Linked DNA regions of Homo sapiens: region 2 is linked to region 1. A link means that fine-mapping ties the variant in region 1 to the expression of a gene that starts in the linked region. Tissue or cell type: monocytes. Region 1 holds a variant in brackets; the other region holds the start of a gene. All regions are shown on one strand. Distances are from middle to middle.

What was found. PIP is the estimated chance that this variant, and not a neighbour inherited with it, causes the effect.
Region 2: ATP11A starts here. The variant in region 1 is fine-mapped to the expression of ATP11A in monocytes (TOPMed, PIP 0.92).

What each region holds. Positions count from the first base shown.
Region 1 is chr13:112,885,262-112,891,104 of GRCh38, forward strand. ATP11A (ATPase phospholipid transporting 11A) reads left to right here. Exons shown (of 30, transcript NM_015205.3): 30 at 1-1,907. Among named protein-coding and RNA genes, the nearest start is that of MCF2L-AS1, 80 kb to the right of the region's middle. RefSeq lists enhancers at 247-391, 818-1,393, 3,852-3,996 and cis regulatory regions at 319, 3,924. The variant C/T (reference allele first, on the strand shown) is at 2,884.
Region 2 is chr13:112,686,970-112,692,812 of GRCh38, forward strand. ATP11A (ATPase phospholipid transporting 11A) reads left to right here and starts at 3,069. Exons shown (of 30, transcript NM_015205.3): 1 at 3,069-3,486. The coding sequence starts at 3,448. LOC102725228 (a long non-coding RNA gene) reads right to left here and starts at 2,846. Exons shown (of 2, transcript NR_187633.1): 1 at 2,694-2,846; 2 at 1-1,900. RefSeq lists enhancers at 1,906-2,423, 4,722-5,223 and silencers at 2,672-3,601, 3,622-3,861.

The DNA of each region.
Region 1 (5,843 bases):
ACATGTACAAGCTCCTACAGGCTTGCTCTCACACACGTGTATGCACAGCAGAGAGACGTATGAGCTTCTACTGCACACATGCACACACACACGCACACGTACATTCACTACAAACGTGCAGCCTCCTGCACACGTGCACATTCATGTGTACACCACAAATGAGTTCCCAGACGTGTAAACACACGTGCACACATCGTACACATGTGAGCTCCCACACGTACACACAGATGCACATGGACACACCCCAAACACGCACAGGCTCCTACACACATGCACACACGTGTACACCACAAACGAGCTCCCAGACATGTAAACACACGTCTCCCACACGTGAGCTCCCACACGTACACATGCACATGTACGCACCACAAACACATGCGCAGGCTCCTGCAGGCGTGAATACACACATGCACACACATATACACACATGTGCCACAAACAAGTGCACACTGTCCTGGTGTCCTGCACTGCATCCTGCCTCCTTGCTGAGGGGCCCCTGTGAGAGGCCTCTGGATGGGCATGGGAAGATGGGCTCCCTGGCCCCCAGCCCATGCCTCCCTGGGATGAAGAGTCCCCCTCCTGGCAGAATGTCTGGGCTTTGCAGAGCAGGCCCCGGGGGTGAAGTCGCAGCTTCACTTACACCAGCTGCTCTGTGAGCAAGGCTTGGTGCCCTGGACAAGGCCCTTCCCCTTTAGGGAGGTCCAGCCTCGCAAGCTGAAACCTCCCCTCGGCTCAGCCCTATACCAGGCGGCCACAGCAGGACTGGCCACACCCACGCCGCACCTCATCCGTGCACGCGTCGGAGCACGGCCAGCCTTCCGCCACGAGCCAGCTGGGAAGGGCCGCGGCCGCCTAAAGCCCCAGTCAACCCAGCCTGTGTCTGAGCAGACAGGGCGAACAAGCAGGCCACACCGTCTCGAGGGAGGAGGCCAGATGCGGCCAGCGTCTCCAACAGGGTGACCATCCGCTCGGCTTGCTGAGCGTTTAAACAAATGTTTAGACAGGCTGTGGGGACTCCCCTGAGTTGAGCCTTGGCCAGGGGTCCGGTGCTGTCGCGGGAAACCTCCAGCCTTGTTCTTCAAACCACTCAGCTCATGTGTTTTGCACTGACTAGTACTGAATAATACAACCACTCTTATTTAATGTTAGTATTATTTATTTGACAACTCAGTGTCTAACAGCTTGATATGCAGGTCCTTGCATCCTACATTTCTTTAGGAAGTTACCCATTTGTAACTTTAAAAACAGGAAAAATATCAGTTGGCAAATGCAATCTTTTTTTTTTTTAAGCTAAAGGTGGGTGAACTGGAATGAAAATCTTTCTGATGTTGTGTCTATAAGCAGCCTTGATGGGATATGTTAGAAGTGTCATGAAAGTGTGATTCTACTTTTGCAGAAAAATCTAAAGATCAATTTATATAGCTTTATTTTTTACTTTATCAAAGTATACAGAATTTTAATATGCATATATTGTGTCTGACTTAAAATTATAATGTCTGCGTCACCATTTAAAATGTCTGTTCATTATGTAATGTAATAAAAGAAGGTCTTCAAAAATGTATTTAACATGAATGGTATCCATAGTTGTCATCATCATAAATACTGGAGTTTATTTTTAAATTATTAAACATAGTAGGTGCATTAACATAAATCAGTCTCCACACAGTAACATTTAACTGATAATTCATTAATCAGCTTTGAAAAATTAAATTGTTAATTAAACCAATCTAACATTTCAGTAAAGTTTATTTTGTATGCTTCTGTTTTTAACTTTTATTTCTGTAGATAAACTGACTGGATAATATTATATTGGACTTTTCTCTAGATTATCTAAGCAGGAGACCTGAATCTGCTTGCAATAAAGAATAAAAGTCTGCTTCAGTTTCTTTATAAAGAAACTCACACAAGTGGTGTGTACATTTTCTGCTCTGAGAAACTGTGCAGTCAGAACACTTCGCAGCGTGCTTCTGTGCGGGATGGAGGTGGCAAGCCCAGTGGGTGATGTGGGCCCTCCCTGGCTGTTCCCTCGGCTGCCACCCCCTGCAGGGATACCAGGTGTGCCAGGTGCAGGGCCCTGGTGCTGACTGCCCTGGATGCCAGTGCCTGCACAGAACCGGAAACACCACTGGGTTTCCCAACCTTCTGGTCCATCCCCACCACAAGCTCCTCCCTGACCTCTGCCAAGCTCCTGCCTGCCACCTCGTGCTTGGGGTCTAGGTGCCCCCTTTCCATCCCAATTTTCCCTCTTGACCAAACCCCAGGCTCCTCCAGGCCCTTCAGCCTCCTGGGCTCTGTTGGCTGAACCCAGCCTTTCCCACTCTGAAGTAGAGGGCATTCCCTGCCCCCTGCCACTCCCAGCCCTGGCAGAATTCTGGGTGCTGCCACGGAGCCCCCGGAATGCCCCCTGGCCTTGGAGGCCGTGGCCTTGTCCCAACCCTGACCTCACCCTCTCTCGAGTTCCACCCAGCCCGGCCGTGTCATACTCTGCAGTTTTGTGTCTTGTCTGGAAACACCAACTTCAAAACACCACCAGGTCCCAACTTCTGGGATCCCAGCTCCATTGGGGCACCCGGAGAGGGGCCTTGGGGTGGATCCTAGAGCATCCCTGGTGGCTGGTGCCTGAGTCCCGCCTGGCTACATCTCCTCTCCCTGCTCAGCCACCTGCTTCCCATGGAGTCTCAGCTCAGGGCCACGTGGGAAACACCCCGGGAGGGGACAGAGGGCCCCTGGCTCGCAGGCTGGAATTCTAAACATGGGACTTTTTCTGGCTCCTGAACGCCACAAAGTCGGGGGTACTTTTCACAGGCAGTGCTCCGAAGGCATCTGTGGGGTGAATGAACCTACAGCTGCCCTGGATTCTCTCCGAAATGCTTTCCTCTCGTT[C/T]CCTGGATTCTCAGCATCTTCATGTGGGCTTACCTTTACCTTTCCAGCTCGTAACCCTGAAGCCATCTTCCGTACAGCTGTCTCTTCCTCTTGTAGCAGGAAAACAGATAATGCTGTGATTTTGCGGGTCATGGGGAGAAGAGGGGAGGGGCAGAGCAGGCTGGTCCCAGGGGGCGGCACTAGGGTGGGAAGGCCTGGCCCTAATGAGTGACCCAAACTCGCTTCACCTCCCCCTGCTCTCCAGACAGAAGACATGAATCCTGAAAGCGAGATGCCCAGTGACCCTGCCCACTGCCCAAGGAGGAGGAAGCCTGGCCCTCCCTGCCCATCAGGGCCTCCTGGGGAAGCCAGAGGGGGATGCAAGCTTGCCCTCCACACTGGCCCATCTGTCCCGTGCCAAAGATCTTTTCTTAACTGCAGATGCTAGGTCACTGGGGGCCTCTGTGGGTGTTTAGCAAACATCATCAACCACACAGGCCACCCGAGGCCCCCACAGCAGATGATGCCGCCTGTGGACCTGAATGGGAGTGTCTGTGTGCCTGCAGCGGTGAGGATGGAGGAAGGCGTGGCTCGTGTGGCGCTGCGTGCCCCGCGCTGATGCTGGGGCTCCCAGAGCCGCCCACGTGGCCTGTGGCGCACTTGCTCAGTGGCGGGTCCTGAGGTGGACGAGGACTGGCCCTGTCCTGAGGAGGCTGCCGGTCCTTTGCACGCGCAGTGAACCCGCTCACCTCGTGCAGCCTGTCCTGACGACTGCTTTCCACAACAGCATAGCGTGTGGCCTGCCAGTGAACGGGCCCAGGTGTGGGAGGGACGCAGGGACAGAACCCACAGGAGCCCCTTCCCGGTGTCTCGAGAGGTGTCCTCAGGGCGTCCTCGGGGCATCCTCAGGTGTCCTCCGGGTGTCCTCAGGTGTCCTCAGGGTGTTCTGGCATCCACCAGCCTGCCCAGGGCATCCGCTGCTCCCCCACATCAACTGAGGGCTGTTCCATGCCAGCCTCATACTCTCACCTGGGACAGGATTGCTGGGAGGGCTCAGGGGACGGGGCAAGGCCAGCCAAGCCCAGAAGGGCTGGAGGGAGAGCGAGGCCGGCATAAAATGGTTCTCAGCTCATGTGGAGCCACAGATGCTGGCTTGGGGCAGCCTCCAGGCTCTGACAGGGAGGCTGGTTTGTTCAGGTGTCCTCCAGTGTCCCAGCAAAGGGGACATTCCAGCAGCACCTGGGGCCAAGAGAGAGGGAGGAGGATGGAGCCTGGAGAAGAAATAAAAGTTGGAATTAAAAGTTGTTTGCTGGGAGAGGAAGAGCCATGTGCCTATCTCAAAAGCGTGGGTGACATGCGTGCTTCCTGTGAGCGCCCTGCGGAGGCTCGTCTGTGCACCAACACCCCGGGGTCTCCCCAGGTGTGGCAGCACCACCCTGTCCTCCACCTGCATCTCCTCTGGGCGCTCTCCATGCGGCGCTGGGGTCAGGGCCCGCCCCACTGACCTCCTTTTAGCTCGGTCGCCTCTGTAAAGACCCCATCTCCAACCAAGGCCACATTCTGAGGCACTGGGAGTTAGCACTCCGACATCTCTTTTTGGAAGACACAATTCAACCCCCAACACTCCGTTCTGGGGGGCCATGGAAATGCCTCATCCGGCTTCAGGGCAGTCACACCTGGGAGCAGCCGCGGCCTGCGGGGTGGATCCGGGCCTGTGCGGCGGTGGGGTGGGGTTGGAGGGGTGTTTGAGGCCATGGCTGCTCCTTGGATGACAACCTGGAACACACCAGGGGAGCTCGCTTGCCATCGGTTCTGAGTGGCTCAACCTGGGTGACTGCAATGGACCGAGAGGGTCCGGGTCGTCCCCAACCCGCAAAGGCATCCAGGAAGCCACCCGGGGACCCTGCTCAGAGCAAGGCAGAGCCAGACACACAGCAACAGGCAAGCCGCCCCGCAGAGGATGAGCCGAGGCAGCACGCACCAACACGGGGCTAAAGTCAGCATCTCACTCATCTCACAAGGCTTCCTGACTTCTTAAGACATCAGTGGTTACTCTAAAAGAGAAGAGCAGGCCGTGGCGGGCAGGTGACCCCTCACCGTCGCCCTGGGGGAAGGAGCGGGCTGTGGCGGCCGGGTGACCTCTCACCGTCTCTGTGGCGGCATCACTGTCTTTCTGCCGGCCAAGCCATCGGGGCAGCAGAAGAGTCTCAAACAGAAACCCGGCTCAGCTCTTGTTTCTCACCTCCTTGTTTCAGCAAAATTCTCCCCAAAAGGTGGCTATATTTGTTGTCTCTGTCTCCGTACACACCCTCATCTGCCTCCCGATCTGTGGACGGCTTCTGGGCCCTCGTGGGACGGCTGGGTCCTGTCTGTCTCTGCTTCTCAGCGGGCCCCGGCGCAGGCCACCACCCCACCTGCCCTCGTGGTCTGCGTTCTTTGCCTTCACAGCATGAATCTCACCCCGATTTGAGGCTGTGTCTGTGTACATTAACCTATTTTATGTATTTTTACTGAGACATAAGCTCCAAGAAGTGAGAGACTTTGCCTCGCTCTGGGCCGAGCCCTGTGTCCAGCATGGGGCCTGGGGTGCAGGAAGGACGCAGTGACCATGGGGCTGGCTGGACACAGACTCAGGGCCCCTGCCCGGCTCAGCTTCCCAGTGAGGATTCCAGGTGCTGGGTGCCTGGTTGTAGCCAGCCAGACCACCCTGGTCAGAGGTTTCGGGACAAGGGCTGGCAGGAAGCCCTTCCCATACAGCTGGAGCCCATGAGGCCGAGCCCGACGGCACCTGGGCAGTGAGAAGCCAAGACCTCGGCACTTTCGTTCTGGAGGAGGGGGTGAGGGAGGGACAGTACCGCTGTCTTGTCTAGGCAGGGTTTGTGCAGATTTGGGGGCTGGAGGAGGCCAGCGTAGCCCTGCCCTGCTCCCTCCAGCCACCCAGAACTGCAGAGGCGCCAGGCCCAAGTCTGCCTGTGGCGTGT
Region 2 (5,843 bases), 200 kb before region 1:
ATATTCACCAGTAGAACATGGTAGAAGTCATATTCTTGGACTTCCAAACCCGGGCCTTACAGGCTGTATAGCGTCCACATTGACCCTCCTGAGCTGCCATGTAAAAAACTCAGGCTAGACCACTGAATGATGAGAAGCCAGAGAGAGACAGCAAGGCCGGCCTGCCCCCAGTGTTCTATCACCCTAGCTGAGACCCCAGCTGTGTGACTAGACCACAGGAAGCTTCCAGCCCCAGCTGACCCCCAGAAGAATGCAGCTGCAGGACAATCCCAGCCAACAACAGGTGGAGCAGAAGCACCATCGCACCAATTCCGCAGGGTCCTGAGAAATGGTAACCCACTCACTGCCGTTTCAGCTCCTGCACTCGCGGTCACTCGTGACACAGCCAAAAATAACTGACTCACAGGGTGTCTTAGTCTGCTCAGGCTGCTGTAACAAAATCCTTTAGATGGCTATTCATACACACAGAAGTTTGCTTCCCACAGTTCTGAAGGCTGAGAAATCCAAGATCAAGGTCCCAGCAGATCTGGCATCTGAGAAAAGTTCTCTGCTTCATAGAAGGCCTCTTCTAAGCATCTTCATATGGCAGAAAGGGCAAGCAGGCTCCCAAAAACCTCAGTTTTAAAGGGCACTAATCCCATTCCTAACCACCTCCCAAGGCCCCCACCTCTTAATATTTGGGATTAGGTATCAGGTATTTGGGATTAGGTTTCCACGTGTGAATTTGGGAGGACACCTTCAGACCATAGCACAGGGTGAGTTGGACTTTGTTTTTTAATAGCCCTGATTTTTTTTTCTTAGATTTACCGTGAAGATGCTGACATGTGTTAGAAACAGAAAATCCAGCTCATGTGGTTTAAACGGAGACGTCTCTCATAGCAGGAAATTCCAGGTGAGGGCAGCAGGATTTTGGTGAATTGCCTGGTTGTGCCACCAAGGACTCCTGCTCTTCTCATCTTCCCAGGCGGCCACCCCAGGGTGAAGATGCTCTTCCGGCCACCTTCTCTTATAAGTGCAAAGGGCTGCGGAGCACCAGGCATTGCATCCAGACAGGGAATGCAACATTCACCAGGGAAAAAGGAGCATTTCCTCTTTATGTTCCTGTAGGAGTGAGAAAACCTTTGCCAGACAACCCCCAGCAGGCTTCCTGTTGGGACTCATTGACTTGAGCTTGTTTGAAGCCAATTGTTGGAAAGAGAAATGGAGTTACCAAGATTTTCTCAAGAGACAGAGTTTACCCTTAGCCACACAGAGTGGATACCTGAACCAGCAAGGATAGAGAGGGCATGGCTGCTGCATTGTCAACCAACAGTATTCACAACAGAATGAAAAACAATTCACATTTACTACTGAATAAAGCAGACACTCCTGACAGACAGGCAGCCTTGATCTAGTGCCTTATACAACCTCTGATTGCGCCTCGACCCCAATCCCACAGTCACGGTTTACAAGGTAGAAGCTTAGTCAAAATCCGGCTTCAGCAGTCAGGGTTCTTGCAGGAAACTGAAGGTGTTCTTGGGAGGGGATTTGGAAGCGAGTTTGATGAAGGACTCTTTGTTGCGGTGTGGTCATGGTTCAAGGATCCTTCAAAGGGTGCTGCTATTTAGGGACCAGCAACAATGGCAGACCGACAACATGTCTCACCCTAAGAGGCTTGGGGGCGGGGAGAAGTTCTGTTCGTAGAGCCTAGAGGAGTTGTGCAATGGAAAGGGCACCCAGGAAGAATCGTAGCCACAGAGTGAAACCAACACTGGTGGGTGTGGGGCCAGGCCAGGAAGGAGAGGGGAAGAGGCCCCTGCCTCCCTCCTACCCGGTCTGCAGCAGGTTGTCCCTGTGGGTGAAGATCCACTGAGGGGGACCGCCAGCTTCCTGAGCACAGGGCAGGCCAGAGCAGGACAGGCTGGGATGGAAAATGAAGAATCAGTGCTTTAGCCGACAACAAATGGGAGCCGTTTACTGTTTAGTCACTATGATTAGTGTTCACTAGTACTCATTTCTCTTCGTCTAAAAAGTGGCCAACACCATCTCTTTTCCACAAGCACTCGGGAGAACATTCATATTCAATTGCCTTCCTAAGACCCAGACGGGGCAGCGCTCTCCACAGGCCACCAAAAGGTGTTGCCTGTTTGGTTTCATCAGTGATTATCTGTGGCAGCAAGACAGGAAGTTGGAAATCAAGTACCTCAATTAAGTCAAGGCTGACCGTGGAATTAGAGAACAAGTGTTTGTTACCCCGGCCAGGTCACCCTAGGGAAAACAGGCATTCTCCGGGATTGAAATGGTGGTGTTTGTGTGGTAAATAGTTCTCAGTCCAGTTCAAAGCCAGCAGCATTAAGGACACGCCACCGCCACCGGGAGCTGGAGACCAGGCGAAGCTGAGCTCCTCTGTGGTTCACCAACCCCTCAGGCCGCCTAAGTGTCTTCTGCTGTCGCAGCTTTGGGGACAGAGGGGTTTCGGAAACAGGGGCCTCTTGTCTGCACCCTCCCCTCCCACTGACAGGCTGGCAGCCCAGGGCAGCCACCTGAGGAGCGTCCCTGTGTCTCTCCATCTGCAGAGCAGGAAAAGCCTGCGGGTCGGTGGCGCCACGCTGGGGCGAGACCCAGCTTCGGCTCAGGAGATCTCCCACCCAGCCGGACTCCCGCTCTCTGCCCGCGGCCCCCTCCCACACTCCCACCTCGCCCCGCGATCTCACTGCCCCATCGAGGCTTCCGGGCGGAGGAGAAAAGTTTTCCGGCAGGAACCCGGGAAGGAAGCCCTGGGACCCTGGCTGAAACTCCGGGTTTCCCCAGTGCCGAGTCCCTTCCCCGCCGCGCCCAGCGCCTGCGCCCCGGGAGGCGGAAGCAACAGGGGGGTTCCTCCCCGCGGCCTCTGACCTCTGCCCTCTGCCCTCTGCCCCCAGGGTCTGGGGCCCGGGCGGAGGCGCGAGGGGGCAGGGCCGGCGCGCGGGTGCGAGCGCGGGTGTGGGCGCGGGGCCGGCGGGGGCTGCGGCCGCGGGGCGCATGCTCACTTGCGCCGGTGACGTGCGCGCCCGGAGCAGGGGCAGGAGCCAGCGGGGCCCGGAGGCTCCAGAGGGCGGCGGGCAGGGGAGGAGGAGACTCGGGAGGAGCAGAGCGCAGGCTCCGCCGCGGCCGGGGTGCTCCAGCCGAGCCCAACCGAGCGGGCGGACCGACGGGGAGAGAGAAGGCGCCAGAGCGCGCGCGCGCGGCCCCGAGCAGCAGCCTTGCCGCCAGTGGAGCAGCTGCCGACGCGCGGGGCCGCGGACCCAGCATTCGCCGGCCGGGCCGGGCATGAGCGCGGAGGGGCCGCGGCCGCCCCCTGCACCGCCCGGCGCGCCGAGGCCGTGACCGGAGCGGGGGGCGCGGCCGCACTAGTACCCCGGAGCCCATGGGCGCGCCGAGCCGGGCGCGGGGGCGCTGAACGGCGGAGCGGGAGCGGCCGGAGGAGCCATGGACTGCAGCCTCGTGCGGACGCTCGTGCACAGATACGTGAGTGCTCCCGGCGCGGGCTGGGGGACCCGGGGACCAGACAGACGCGGGCCGGCCCCGCAGCCCGGACCCTGTGGCCGGTCCAGCCCCGGGGTCCCGGGAGGTCTCCGATGTCTGGGACTCGGACCGCCCCCGGGGACGAGCGGGATGCTGGGGAGGGGCCTCGGAGTTGACACCCTGGGGCTTCCGACGGGGTCTAGGTGGGCACAGCGCGGGGCCCCAGCCCCGGGCGGCCACCTGCTCCCTGGCCGCGGCCGCCTGGCGCCCCCTTCCCGCCCGCAGCGCCCTGGGGGTCCCTCGGAGAGGCTGGCTGGGGTTCGAGCTGTCCCGGCGGACCGGGCGCCCGGAGGGAGCCAACTTCGACCCCGCCGGGGCCCGGGTCTGGGGAGGAACCTTCAGATGCGGCTTCCGCGCAGCCGTGTCTGTAAGATTAAGGGATTGGGAGGAAGCGTTACACTTCTGCAGAAAAAGGTAGCAATTGTGTTTGTTCTTTAACACCCCTGGGGGATTCAGAAGCGGAGTTTGGAATCTTTTTATTTTTTACCTTAAAGTAACCAATTAGATCAGAAGTCCGGGGTCTTCTTGGGTTCCTCTGGAATTTGCCCCTTCAGTGATAAGCAAGTGAAGAGCTCAGGAGGGAAGACTCGGAAGGGGAAAAGTTGATTTTGTTTTACACCAGAGGAGGGGAAACCGGAATCCCTGGCGTTAGGTGTAAAAAGGGGTGTGTGGCCGGGCGCGGTGGCTCACGCCTGTAATCCCAGCACTTTTGGAGGCCGAGGCGGGCGGATCACGAGGTCAGGAGTTTGAGACCAGCCGGACCGACATGGTGAAACCCCGTCTCTGCTAAAAAATACGAAAATTAGCCGGGCGTGGTGGTAGGCGCCTGGGATCCCAGCTACTCAGGAGGCTGAGGCAGGAGAATCGCTTGAACCCGGGAGGCGGTGGTTGCAATGAGCCGAGATCGAGCCACTGCACTCCAACCTGGGTGACAGAGCGAGACTCTGTATCAAAAAAAAAAAAAAAAAAGGGTGTGTGTGTGTGTGTGTGTGTGTAGGAGAGGAAGAAAACTGTCCCAAGCACAGCGTTTCCTGCCACTGTCTTGCACAAGAGGCTTCATTGTTCCATAGAGGCTGGCGGTCACTGGTCAATCACAGGTTCGAGAAGTCGCATGCACCGGGTTTGATACTAGAGAGGGCAGTATTATGGGAACTTTGTTCTTTCCCGGCATAGGAATTACCTCAGGCAGCCTTTCATATTTATGAGCCTTCTTTAAATAGGAGACCTTGGCCAAAGATAGATAGGTTTCTTTTCAGTGGGGGATGCCAGATCAATGCTTTCCCCCGGATTTATTTATTAACCAAAAACCTCGGAGAGTCAAGGAGACTTGAGTGCACCTTACATCGTTTCCTGATCTCGGGGAAGCCTTAGGAAGGTCAGCCTGACTTACTTAAGTGGAGAGAACTCACCCCTGGTGATTCTGATGATTCCGATGCTAGATCTTGAAAGGCTTGGCTCCAGGAGCCTTGTGTTACTCCCTCACTGGTGCTCGAGCCCCCAGTTCAAATCCTAATGTGAGTGGTAAACCTGTGTTTCACTGTGGTAACGTTATAGAAGACCCAATCACAGTGACTATAGGTAACCTGCAGTGTAAGAGAAATGCTTTATTGGGCGGAAGCTTCTGTTCTCAGTTGTGTCGCTCAGAAGTGTGGGTCCCTAGACACCTTATTTTCCTGCTTTGTTTCCTTCGAGCGAAATGGAAGAGGGAAGGGACTAACACTCACTTTGCCCGCGGTGTTCCCAGTTCATTCCGTTCCCTTCTAACACTCAGTGTTAAAAAGGAGGGTCACGTTGTGGGGCTAATGTGCAGCCTCTTTCCATAGAAATGAGAGATGGATGGGCCAGCCCGGCTCACCCTTTGGAGAATCCCCCCTTCCCAGCCGGTTTCTGACCCCTTCATCTTGGGAGGGGGACAGACAGACGTCCAATTTTGATGCTTGACTCCCTTTCTCCAGGCCTTCAGCTGTTTTCTGTTATATAGATCTATATAAGTGTTTGCGTAGCTTGCATTTTTAATTCCCCTTTGCTGTATTATTACGCTTATGGCATCACATTTTCTTTTAATCTAAGCGGTAAATATTCTTTAGTGAACTTTTCCAGCATATACATTATTGGATAACGTCTCGGGAATACGAGTTGTGGGATAATATTATTTCTGTTTTTCTCATTCCACCTGTGTTTTTTGCAGTGTATTCATCTGGCTACCTCACCCATATTTACACACAGAGCCATTCATCTCTATCATTTTAAGTTCATGTCTATGGTATTAAACTAATTTGACTTTTTCCAGAAACAGTCAT